Regions from separate parts of the Homo sapiens genome. Here regions 1 and 3 are each linked to region 2. The links come from fine-mapping of genetic effects on gene expression. A gene starts in region 2. Each other region holds a variant in brackets. All regions are shown on one strand. Distances are between the middles of the regions.

Region 1 (4,000 bases), 31 kb after region 2:
TTCCTGGCTCTCCCTGACCAGGACCCTCTCTCCATGGCCCCCAGCTCCTGTCTCCTCCGTCAGTCAGCCTCTCTCTCACCTTTCCATCATGTTAGCTTCGGTTGATTTAGCCAGAAAACAACCCCCAGAATTTAATTCCATGGCCCTCCAGTCCCATCTCGATCAGCTCAGGGTTGGGAGGGTCTGTGTAACGAGGAGAGTGGAGGGTAGGGGGAAACTTGGTATCTCAGAGTCAGGGGAAAAAAAAAGAAAATCATATTGATTCCCCCAATGACATCCATCAATCTTCTCCCCGATGGTGAGTGGGGAGATTGGAGACAGGGCCGACAGGCTCCAGGGTCACTTGATCCCCAGGACTTTAACGACAGAGGCCCTGGTCTTCAGTATCGTCCCTCCTCCAGCTTCCCTGGAAAAGCCTTTCCTGAGGTCAGTTACCCACGTCCTCCATCCCCTCCCAGAACATTCTGGATTCCTACCCCTTCTCTTGTTTGTAATATTTCCTTAGCAGGCTCTCTGATGACCCCGTCATCACTTTCTCCTGCCTGGTTTATCCCTTAGTTGGAAGTTCTTCCTGCTGTCTAACTTCAAGTCACATTAATTTTTTTAAAAAAGGAAAAAATCATTTTCTACAACTCTAAGAGGAAACAGACATAATCGCTGCTTTAAAATCCTTAGGGAAAAGAGATTAGGTAAATGATTAGTATCATTTTACTGGAGACTACGAAGAAAAGTTACAAATTGCAAAGATCCAGCACTACCATGGTGAGCAGAGCATGGTCTGGGGCTCAGAGGAGAAAACAAGGAGTGAGATGGTGTTAAGAATCAGAGATTGGGAAGGGTGTTTCTTCTGCAGATCTGGACTCCATCTCCACAGAAGTCTGCATAAAAGAAGGGCTGACAAAGTAGGAAGGGTGGACAGCAGAAGGCCTTCCCAATAGGTCAGCGTCCCTTTTCCTGGCGTTAAAGAAGGGGTAGCCCTCTCCCTAGTCTCCCGGTGGGTCAGATGTTTTAGGTCTGATCTTCCCCAGAGGCAGGCTCTGGATGCAAAGGACCCAGTGAGAGATACTCCCTCCCACCTCACCCCCAAAGAGGTGGGGGTGCAAGGGAAGGGGCTCAAGGCCGTGGTGTTGCTAGCCCCCGAAGGGTTAATGCTATTGTCTGAAAACCACATCGGCTCCCCTGGGAGCTTGGAGATCCCGCTCTCATTTTAAGTAACCCTAACGCGTGTGATGAGCGAGGAGGGGGTCGTTGCTGGGCGAGGAGAGCGCCAGAGGGAGCCAGTCGGAGGAGCACGGGGACCTGGCTGCTGATCCAAGGTAAGGGACTCCGATGGCAGGTCTGCAGCTGGGGCCAGCCGGCAGGGACGAGCCCTTCTCTGTCCACCACCTCAATGGTGGAGCCGATCGTGGGGCAATTAGGAAGGGGAGACATAAAGAGAGCTAGGCACCGGGTGGAGAGGGGAACCCAAGGGTCACACTGAAGCTGCGTGGGAGGTGGCAGGGCTCTTCCATCTAGGTATGGGACAGCCACAGAGCCAGGTGTTGGGCACTTAGGCCAGAGAGAACCCTGGCACCTGCAGAAGGACATCATAATGACAGCAGGTCCAGCCTACCAATAGGCTCTCCTCCCCCAAGATGGGGCACAGCTGGGGTCAGCTATTGGCAGATACAACTCTTGGGATGAATGGATCAAGTTGGATCCTGGGGCTGACCGAATGCTGGCCTCAGCTATCTCCCTGCCCCAGGGTTCTGTGTCTCAGGGAGCTCTCTGCTGTCATCCCTGTGGCTGAGGTTGAAGATCAGTGGGTGAGGATTGACAATCAGCTGGTGGCTACTACTGGGCAGAGGGAGGCAGGTGAGGGTGTGGACCTCATAGCATGAGGACGGGAAGGAGCAGGGGTGGGCAGAGGGCCACCAGGATTGTGCTCCCACCTGATCCGGGCTGGGGTGTTCTGAATTGAAACCTCTGATGGGATGAGAGGATTCTGCCCCACTCCTACCTCCCTCCCTTCCTCAGACTCTTGGGATCCTTTTCAAGGAACTAGAAGAAGCCTAAAGTCTGAGAACGTGAAGTCTCCTGCTTATCACGAGAGCCCCTGTGATGGTGAGGGCAGATCCAGGCTTGTGAGGCTGGAGAGACACAGAGATGATGCTCCCGTGGCAGAGAGAAGTCCTGCTCGTCTCACCAACTCCTTCCCAGTGGAGACAAGAGGAGAAGGGCTGGGGAGAGTGGTGCTGCTGTCTCGCCACCTCCGAGCCCCTTTCTGGTCCTGCCCAAGGGCAGTGGGGCTCCAGTGGGCACAGGGACCAGGGTGCATGGATGCAGCCTTCAATGAGGCTTTGGGCTTA[G/C]TGGAAGTTGAAGGTTCTTGTTAAGATTGGGGTTGGGGTTGAGGCTGGAAGTGGACATGAGGGTTGAGGGTTGGGGATTGAGTCAGAAGGTATCAGAGGCCCCCAGCTGGGGAGAATGGCCTCAGATGCCTGCTTCTCACGCTGCTGTCCTGGTCCCAGTTACTCAGCCCCATGCTGGCCCTGCCAGCTCATCCAGCTCAGCTGTTTGCTAGGAGCTTTCACTTCCTCTGCCTCTGACCTGCTCCTCTGCCACGTCATCGCCTGCTGGAGGGGATTTCTTGTCTCTGTGTTGGGGGGACAAAGGGAAGGATCAGGGGGTGTCCAGGCAGGGGGCTCCCCCAGGCACAGCTGATGGGAATGAGGTTGCCACTAGGGGAAGGTCGAGGGGCGCAGGGGGGATCTGAGGAGGAAGTAGGGGAGTGGGGTGGTGGTGCTATAAGGGCAGGGCAGGGAAGCTGGGAGGCCTGTGGTCAGTTTCCTTCTCCAAAGCATGGATGAGAGATGGGGGGCAAGAGAGGAAAGACAGACAAGGAAACAGAAAGCAACAACAGGAGACAGTGACAGAGACAGCAAAACAGAGAGCACCAGGCTGGGAAAGAAGTGTTGAGACAGGCAACACTCCAGAGGAGGGAAATGGGCATTCCAAGGGGCAGGATAGGTAGGGCAACAAAGAGAGGCCATAGGATCGGCAGACACAGGAAGTAAAGGCAGAAATGGAGAGACCAAGAGAAACTGGCAGAGGAGAGGACAGGGGAGAAGAGAGACAGGAGTGGAAAAATACATGGCAAAATCAATAATGGTGGGGAAGAAAGGCCAAGAGAAGGTTGCTGGGTGGGAAGTGGAAAGAAGGAAAAAGAATTAAAGTGGGAGGGAAGAGGAGAGAACAGTGAAGGAGCAAATGAGGTGAAGAAAGATAAACCGGTCAAACAGAGAGAAGTGGAGACCGGCCGGGGCCTGACAGGCAGAGGGATGGGTGCGGAGCTGGAAGCTGGTCTCCAGACACCCTCGTCCCTTCCCGAGCCCCTGGGTCCCTGAAGGTGTGTCAGGGGATGACCTTCCCCCGACCTTCAGCTGCCCATCGTGACAGGTCTGAGGGGCAGGGGATGGGAGTGTCTGGGTTTGGATTTCTGCTCCACGGAGTTACACAAAACTTTTAAATCCCACGGCCCCCAGGGACCCAAGAGACAAGAGTTGGAGGCATCTGCAAGGGACAGGGGGACTAAGAGGAGGGGCTGGGCAGAGATCTGAGGCTGTATGAGGGGACTGGGCAGTGACAGCAGTCGAGAGGGAGCCTGGAGGGGCGTTGAGGACTGAGGAAAGAGAAGGAGAAGCAGGACTGCTGCTGGACCCCACTCGGGGAGGCTCTCCCAGCTGTGGAGATAGAAGGAAGAGCTGAGGCTGCAGGAGGGAGACAGGGTTCGTCTGGCTGATTCCCAGCACCCAGCATCAAAAAGGGGTCCTCTCTATTGCCTGGGCAGGGAGAGAAAAGATGCCCTTGGGGTCACTGCCAGCATATCCCTTGGTCAGGGGAGAAGGAAAGAGAAGTTAAGGGGACATGAAGGAAGGGTATCTAGCCCTCTCCTTCCCCCAAATTCTCCAAGGAAAAAGGCGACTGGCTTTGACCCTCCCAGGCCCCCAGCCCCTCTTGCTCT
Region 2 (4,000 bases):
ACATCAGTAGATACTGTAGGTATTATGTTCACATAGATGAGGAACTGACACAGAGAAGTTAAGTCACTTAACTAAGGTCACAAAGCTAGTAGATGAAGGCACAAGGACTTAATTTCCGTTTAGCCGAACCCCAATATTTTAAAGGAATGTTCTAGCAAACATCTGATATCTACATGTAAGTTGCCGTTCTAGGTACCATGCACAAGATGCAAAGAATATATAGACAGTTCCTACAAAGAGCTAGTGGACTAGTTGCAGGTATCGGTAACCCTCTCTATGGTGTTTAAGTTCTGCTCCTTATTTTGTTCACCTACAGAGTAGGAAGTTCTAACTAGAAAAGACACAACAATGTTATCTTTTTTAAAAAACAGGTAAGGTAATTTTAGGCCAGAGGGAGCCAATTTACTAATTAATTTATCAAGAGCTACACAGTGACTAGTAGCACATTCAAAACTGGAAGCAATTTTTGTAACAACTAATATCTCCAAGTCCCATGTGGCAGAGACGGTGCAAAGGTCTTACTAGAGCAGAGGTACAAAGTTTTGATCCATTTGATCAAAATTGATCTTCAATTCTCCTTCAATCCCATCTCTCTTCTTCACCTCCCCCACGCTCGTATTTATTCTAAATTCTTTAACCTTTACTGATCCTCACTACTCCCTTTCTTCTGCCTCTGGAGTGAAACTATGCCTGGACACCACTCAGATTTACAGGGGTGGGACTGCAGATAAAGCTGAACTGCTTGAGATTCTTTATCCTTAATGAGCCTCTAAAGGAAGAAAAAATCATGCTTTGGACAGACAAATTGCCCGAGCAGGAACAAAAGGTAAAACCAAAAGGGGACACGCGTTTTAATGACTTAGGGAGAGGACTTGCAAGCTGCTTAGACTGGGACGAATTAAGACTAAATGCAGTGGGGTGGGAACTAGCGGGGAAGCGGTCATGCCCCCCAGTCTTCCCAGGGAGGAAATGCCAAAGCGACGTGCTTCAGAGAAAGCTTTGCGGTTTCTTTCATACGTATATGAAAGGGCCCTTTCTTAAAGGGTAGGGAAATTGCGTCTGAAGTCTGCGGGTCCCGTCTTCCCATTGTGAGGGATCCCCACTCTGGGAGGTCGCAGGGCCCATTTCTGGAGAAAGACGGGCCGCCTCTCTGTTGTGTGGGAGAGACTGTTTCCCGGCGCCTGGGCCTTCCTGTGGGGTCTGCGAGGTCCCCTCCCCCGGGAGGTGGGACCCCGGGGCAGCGCCTCGCCCCGCAAAGTCCGTTCTGCCTCACGGCGCAGGACTGGCGGGGGAAGCGTATAGCAGCTCAGCACCCCCTCGCGCCGCGTCACCCCTCGGCGTCTGGAGGACCCTGGCCCAGCAGCGGACCGGGCCGGCCGCCCGCCACGAGCGTGCGTAACGTGCCCCCGCAGCGTGACGCACGGGCCGTGCCGGGGCGGATGCGCGGGATGCGGGCCGGGAGGAGCGCGCAGGGGGAGGAGTGCGGGCGGAAGTCGGCGTCTGCTGAAAGGAGAAAGGAAAGGGAGACGCTGCTGGGTGCGGCGAGGTGAGGCTGGGAACCGGCGGGAGGGCGCCTCCTCCTCCCCCGCCCTCTCTGCTGAGGATGGAAGTGACGAAAGCAGCCGAGGAGGTCACTTCCTGCTGGGGTGGATGAGGAGGAGCCGGAGACGCCGCGGAGGAGACCGGACCGAAGACGGACCGTGCCGGGAAGAGGTGAGTCCCGGCCTCGCCTCGGCCGCCGGGGTGTCTGGGTTGGATCCGGGACCCTGGCGGGGACGGCGTCCCTGGAATCGGGGCCGGCCGCCAGGCCGCGTACCCACCCAGCTGGGCCTCACCCAGTGCGGGGGGCGGGGGAGGGTGGGATCCCGTGTCTGTCTGAGGGGCGACAGGGACCCAGGGCAGCGTTCATGCGGTGGCCCCGCGCAGCCCTGAGGCCACGGTTAAGGGAAGCCCGGCCCGGGAGGTGAATGGCAAGGAGGTTCTGGGGGCTGTGGAAGCCAGGACCCGGAGCTGCTGCGGGAAACCCGCAGCGCCAGACTGTGCATGCCTCACTCTTCGGGGAGTGGTCGCGATCAGAGGAAGGGCAGGGGTCCTGTGGTTTGCAGAGTTGAGACGAGTGGCCCTACTTGGATGGAAGTGTCCTTGCAGTGAATATGCGAAAGGCGTGCAGAGGCGCCCCAGGGCTCCTGGGAAAGGGACTTTTATGGGGAAAATTGGAGAGCTGGAGTGTCAAGAGAGGGTTTCCTTGTCAGGTTATCGTTGCAACGGGATTTGGACCCCAGGGTCGTGATGGTTGGAGGGAGTTCTGTGGCAGGGTAAAAGGCCTCGCGATCTGACAGCGCATCCTAGGAGTTAAGAGTCCAGGGCAGCTTCCTGGAGCAGTGGGGAAATTCGTGTTTTTCCTCCCTCATTGTCACTAAGGTGGAAGAGGAAGCTCCTGCCTCAGCCCCGGTGCCTCGTTATTATGTATCTCGTGTGTGTGTGAGAGTGTGTGTGTGTGTGTGTGTGTGTGTGTGTGTTTTTCCTTGTCTGCTCCTTCCTTTGGGGTGTTTATCTTGTCCTCGGCCGCTAGTAGTTTTGTAGACTGACACTTGCTGGTCTCCTTAATGTGTTTGGTGAGAAAAAATATTCAAAAGATCTAGAGAAATCCTAGGTTAGGTGAAATTTCCAAGATAAGGAATTTGTCCCTACGCGGGGGCCACTTAGGCATTCTCTCCAGATGCCTGCTAATGTGGATGCTGAGGGCCTGTCATCCACCCTGGGGAACAGCGAGGGTAGATCTGCCCTCCCTCCATGTCCCTCTGGCAGTTTCACCCCTCCCTCCTTTTTGCTAAGTGATTAACACAAAGCTCCTTGCTGGGAGGAACAGGAAATTTATTGAGGAACTGTAAATCTGGATGGAATGAATTCAAATCGCAGCAAGACTCCTTCCACTCACTGGCCAGAAGGGCTTCAGAAATGCCTGCTTTTCACCCCTTCCTGTTAAATGGAGAAAATGTATAATTTTTCTCAAAAAATTTTTGAGAGTTTGTGTGTGTTTTTTGAATAGAGTAAATGTACATATGGTGTGTTTACTTCCTGTATCCCAGGGTATTTTTCAAGGGGGAGGGAGCAGTTTGTGGCTGGGAAGAATCTTCCTTCTATCTCACATAATTCAGTAAAATAAATCAAAATCAGATGTTCATTCTTGAGTGGGAATCAGATGGATTTGGGATTTTTTCATCCTTTAAACTGGTACATCTTGGTGAACTCAGGCTTGTGTATCTTGGCATGTGGGCTTGTCTAGTAATAGAAGACAAACTGTTTGACTTGTTTTGGCTGCGTTTTTGGACCCATTTCACTGTACCTTCCTTTTTTATTTTTATTTTTTTACATTTGAAGGGTTGGTCAGGAGGAGGAAAACAAATATTAAAGACAGTGTTTACACTTTGTGGTTTAAAGTCAGGTGAGAGATAATTATGGCTTTTGAAGCTGATGACCTGAGGCCCATCATTTGATAACTTGGGGAGTAGCAGTTTGGAGGTGACATGTTTGAAAGAAAGAGAGTTGCATACGGAAAGAAGAACAGGGGAAAGGAAGTTTGGGGAGAGACTGCCAGAAAACTTTTGAGAGGATACTAAATAAATAGCATCTTAAAGTAATTGTGTGGCTTGTGTCTCTCAGCAGGCGGGTGAAAATGAAAGCCGGCTGTAGCATCGTGGAAAAGCCAGAAGGAGGTGGAGGTGAGCAGAAGTTAATCATCTCTGATGTACCTGGAAGCTTCCCTCAGTGGTTCCTGTCCTCTCCACTTGAGCTCTGTTCACAAATGTCAGACCATGACTGACACTCTCTTGGCTAGGTGGATACTGGCAGGACAGTTGTAGGCTTGTTTCCTATGGATGTATATTTAACATGTCTGGTCACCACACCCATATCCTAAGCTTTAGAGTCTCTTTGCTGTCAGAGACACAGTTCCAACCTTAGGGAAAAGGAGTTTTCAGCTGTATTTTCCTGAAACATT
Region 3 (4,000 bases), 40 kb after region 2:
TCAGCCGGAAGCCCTGAGTCCGAGTCAGCCCTGGGCAGCGGGGAGGTCCCCAGAGGGGGCTGGGCCCTGTCTGGGTATGGGGAAGCTTGCTGCCTCTGGTTCCCTTTTCTCCCCTTCACTGGCAACCTCTTGTCCCTTCCCTTTTCTCTCTTTCTTTCCTGACCCTCTCCCTTCCTTCCTTCTTTCCCTCCATTTTTCCTTCCTCTTTCACTGTCCTCCCCTCTGCCTCCTTCCTTCCCTTCCTCTTAAGTGGTGACCATTTCCCCAAGGCCCAGACACAGCCCATCTCGCCGGAGTGGACCATGCACTGCAGCTGCTTGGCTGAGGGCATCCCAGCCAACCCCGGCAACTGGATCTCAGGTGAGCCTCTTGGCCGGGCCTACCCCCTGCTCCAACGGTGGCCTAGGGCAGGGCCTCCAGAGCCCTCACTCTCCCCTCTCCACCCAGGGTTGGCCTTCCCTGATTGGGCCTACAAAGCCGAGTCGTCCCCAGGCTCCCGGCAGATCCAGCTGTGGCACTTCATCCTGGAGCTGCTGCAGAAGGAAGAGTTCCGCCATGTCATCGCCTGGCAGCAGGGAGAGTACGGGGAATTTGTCATCAAGGATCCAGATGAGGTGGCCCGCCTCTGGGGCCGCAGGAAATGCAAACCACAGATGAATTATGACAAGCTGAGCCGGGCCCTCAGGTGAGAGGAGGCGGCTGACATGGCCAAAGAGGGGGGATTTCAAGGAAAAGGGCCGTGGTTTCTGGTACCCCTGCTGACTCCCACCCCTCCAAGGCTTGGGAAGTGTCCTGGCCTGTGGTGAGCAGCCTAGTGGTTCTCGGGGAACAGCTTAGGGTCAGCCCGGCTAGGGAGGAGAATGTGACTGGGTCCCTGACTCTATTCTCTGACTGCTGGGCCAACTCTATTCTCAACTTCGAATTCTCCAGATATTACTACAATAAGAGGATCCTGCATAAGACCAAAGGCAAAAGGTTCACATACAAGTTCAACTTCAGCAAGCTCATCGTAGTCAACTATCCTTTGTGGGAAGTGCGGGCGCCGCCATCCCCCCACTTGCTGCTGGGGGCCCCTGCCCTGTGTCGGCCAGCGCTGGTGCCCGTGGGTGTGCAGAGTGAGGTAAGAGCGGAGGTGGCCCCTGTCTCAGGGCTCCACCAGGTCCTACCCCTCTGCCCAGGAGGCTCCCCACCCTCCTCTTTGCCTCTGGGGCCCATCAGCCTCCAGTTTTCTTCTCCTCCTGCATCCTAGACCCTGAGTGCCCCAGAGGCAGGGGTATTAACAATCCAGGTGGTACAGGACCCACCTGTGAGAAAGGGTGGCTCCTTCTGTCCTAGTCGCCACTCCTTTAGGGGTGGATCAGAGGGAAGGGCCCAGGGCATCTGAGACTGTAGGCAGCCGTGGCAGTGGGCTTTTAACAATGGGTATGAGAGGCCAGGCGTGGTGGCTCACACCTGTAATCCCAGCACTTTGGGAGGACGAGGTGGACGGATCATTTGAGGTCAGGAGTTCGAGACCAGCCTGGACAACGTGGCAAAACCCCATCTCCAATAAAAATATAAAAGTAGCTGGGCATGGTGGCACATGTCTGTAATCCCAGCTACTAGGGAGGCTGAGGCAGGAGAATCGCTTGAACCCAGGAGGCAGAGGTTGCAGTGAGCCAGGATGGCGCCACTGCACTCCAGCCTGGGTGACAGAGCAAGACTCCAACTCAAAAAAAAAAAAATCGGTATGAGAGTATTTCATTGTTTTAGCAACTGGCTAACAGTACCAGATTGTACTGGAGGATACATGCCAAGGAGAGCCCATCACACCTCGCACCTACTTCTCACCCCTCAGCTCCTGCACAGCATGCTATTTGCCCATCAGGCCATGGTGGAGCAGCTGACAGGACAGCAGACCCCCCGAGGGCCACCAGAG[A/G]CCTCTGGGGATAAGAAGGGGAGCAGCAGCAGCGTCTACCGTGAGTGCTCAAGGCTGGGAGGGCCCAGGGGGATCTTAGCCAGAGGAGGGAGGGCCCTCCTGGCTGAGTACATGGCTGAGGGGGCATGAGACAAGGGATACTATGTAACTCATTCATTCATTCGACCAACATTTATTGAACACCAGCTATTTACTAAGTGCGGGGGTTCAGAGATGAAAGGCTCAAGAGGCTCAGAACCTAGTGGGGAGCAGAGATGGGATTACTGCCAGCGACTGCTGCTGGCATTCAGGTAAGCACTAGGTGCTGTGCATTCAGGCCCAGAGAAGGAACTGGGGCTTCCCAGAGGACACAACACTGGGGCAGGTGAAGGAGGTGGGAAAAGATGCCTAAGCAGAGGGAATAGCATTTATTTATTCTTTTTTTTTTTTTTTTTTTTGAGACGGAGTCTCAGTGTTGCCCAGGCTGGAACACAGTGGCAGGATCTCAGCTCACTGCAGCCTCTGCCTCCCAGGTTCAAGTGATTCTCATGCCTCAGCCTCCTGAGTAGCTGGGACTACAGACATGCACCACCACGCCCAGCTAATTTTTGTATTTTTAGTAAAGACGGGGTTTCACCATGTTGGCCAGGCTGGTCTCAAACTCCTGACCTCAGGTGATCCACCCGCCTCAGCCTCCCAAACTGCTGGGATTACAGGTGTGAGACACCACACCCAGTCAGAAATAGCATTTATAAAGCAAAAAGCTGTGAACAAGTGTAGCAAATCTGGAGAACAGCTGGTAGTTTGCTGTTGGAGAGCAAGTCTTGCGATGCGGTGGGAACAAGCAGGACGGATGAGAGACAGGGCTGGCAAGGCAAACAGGTGTCAGGCCACAGAGGCCGCACAAGCCATGCTAAGGGAGCAGGACTTTCTCCTGTGGGCAGGAGGGACTGGGAGGGAGATCCATGGTCAGACTTTCATTTTATTTTACTTTCTTTTATTATTTTTTGAGATGGCGTTTTGCTCTTGCTGCCCAGGCTGGAGTGCAATGGCACAATCTCGGCTCACTGCAACCTCCGTCTCCTGGGTTCAAGCGATTCTCATGCCTCAGCCTCCCAAGTAACTGGGATTACAGGCATGCGCCACCACCTTGGCTAATTTTGTATTTTTAGTAGAGACCAGGTTTCTCCATGTTGGTCAGGCTGGTCTTGAACTCCTGACCTCAGGTGATCCGCCTGCCTCGGCCTTCCAAAGTGCTGGGATTACAGGCGTGAGCCACCGCGCCCTGCCAGACTTTCATTTTATAAAGATGACTGTGTGTGTGTAGAGTTTGGGTTGGAGGAAGCATAAGACTGGAGTTGGGAGGCTTTTGAAGATAATCTAGGCAGGAGATGATGGGGCGGTAACCAAGACAACGGCCATGGGATGAAGAAGGAGGCTCAGCTGGAGAGAGATTGGGAAGATAGGGTTCATTCACTCATTCACTCACTCATTCATTTCTTCTTTCAACAGATGCTTAATGACCTCCTGTTTAATTTGCCAGGCACTGTCCTAGGGGCTAGGAAGCCAATGTGAGCAACACTGCCTTTATGGGACTTATAGGCAAGGGGGGTGCAGATATTCAACTAATGATCGATAAGTGATTATAACTGTGCTAACTGCTGCAGAGGAGAAGTGCAGGGTGCCGAGGGCATCAGGGAAGACTTCCTTGACAAAGTGACACTTGAGATGACACCCAAAGTATACGTGAGTGTCAGCTTAGCTCAGAGGGAGTAGGGAGAGCATGGCGAGCGAGAGAATAGTGTGTGCAATGGCCCTGGAACAGAGGGCGAGCGAGAGAATAGTGCATGCAATGGCCCTGGAACAGAGAGACTGGGAGAAGGCCAGTGCAGAAACACATGGCCAATGAGTGGGAGAAGAGGTGGAAATGGAGGCAGACATCAGCTCTTACAGAGGCTGTGAGCTGGGAACTGACAGTATCAGATTTTCTGTGAAAAAGATCACAGAGACACTTGGCCAAACCAAGGCTCTTGTGCAGAGGTCAAAGAATTGCCCCTCTACTCCAGCCAATTTCATGGAAGAAGGATCCATGGCCTTCACCCC

Direction of the effects. Positions count from the first base shown, and alleles are read on the strand shown. Sizes are in standard deviations (SD) of each study's normalised expression. Not every link is listed here.
For the expression in monocytes after LPS of the gene that starts at base 1,634 in region 2, C is the high allele of the variant in region 1 and G is the other (large effect, 1.0 SD a copy in Quach 2016).

Evidence for each region. PIP is the estimated chance that this variant, and not a neighbour inherited with it, causes the effect. A credible set is the group of variants that fine-mapping cannot tell apart.
Region 1: its variant is the best candidate, but not a certain one, in a credible set for the expression of ETV3 in monocytes after LPS (Quach 2016, PIP 0.55).
Region 3: its variant is the best candidate, but not a certain one, in a credible set for the expression of ETV3 in whole blood (TOPMed, PIP 0.85).

What each region holds. Positions count from the first base shown.
Region 1 is chr1:157,105,190-157,109,189 of GRCh38, reverse strand. No RefSeq gene overlaps it. Among named protein-coding and RNA genes, the nearest start is that of ETV3L, 7.4 kb to the right of the region's middle. RefSeq lists enhancers at 2,506-2,725, 2,920-3,881. The variant G/C (reference allele first, on the strand shown) is at 2,349.
Region 2 is chr1:157,136,029-157,140,028 of GRCh38, reverse strand. ETV3 (ETS variant transcription factor 3) reads left to right here and starts at 1,634. Exons shown (of 5, transcript NM_001145312.3): 1 at 1,634-1,713; 2 at 3,664-3,722. The coding sequence starts at 3,677. RefSeq lists an enhancer at 570-1,175 and silencers at 1,107-1,476, 1,527-1,862, 1,707-1,896.
Region 3 is chr1:157,095,826-157,099,825 of GRCh38, reverse strand. ETV3L (ETS variant transcription factor 3 like) reads left to right here and starts at 18. Exons shown (of 5, transcript NM_001004341.2): 1 at 18-360; 2 at 448-685; 3 at 931-1,120; 4 at 1,838-1,958. The coding sequence starts at 303. The variant A/G (reference allele first, on the strand shown) is at 1,919.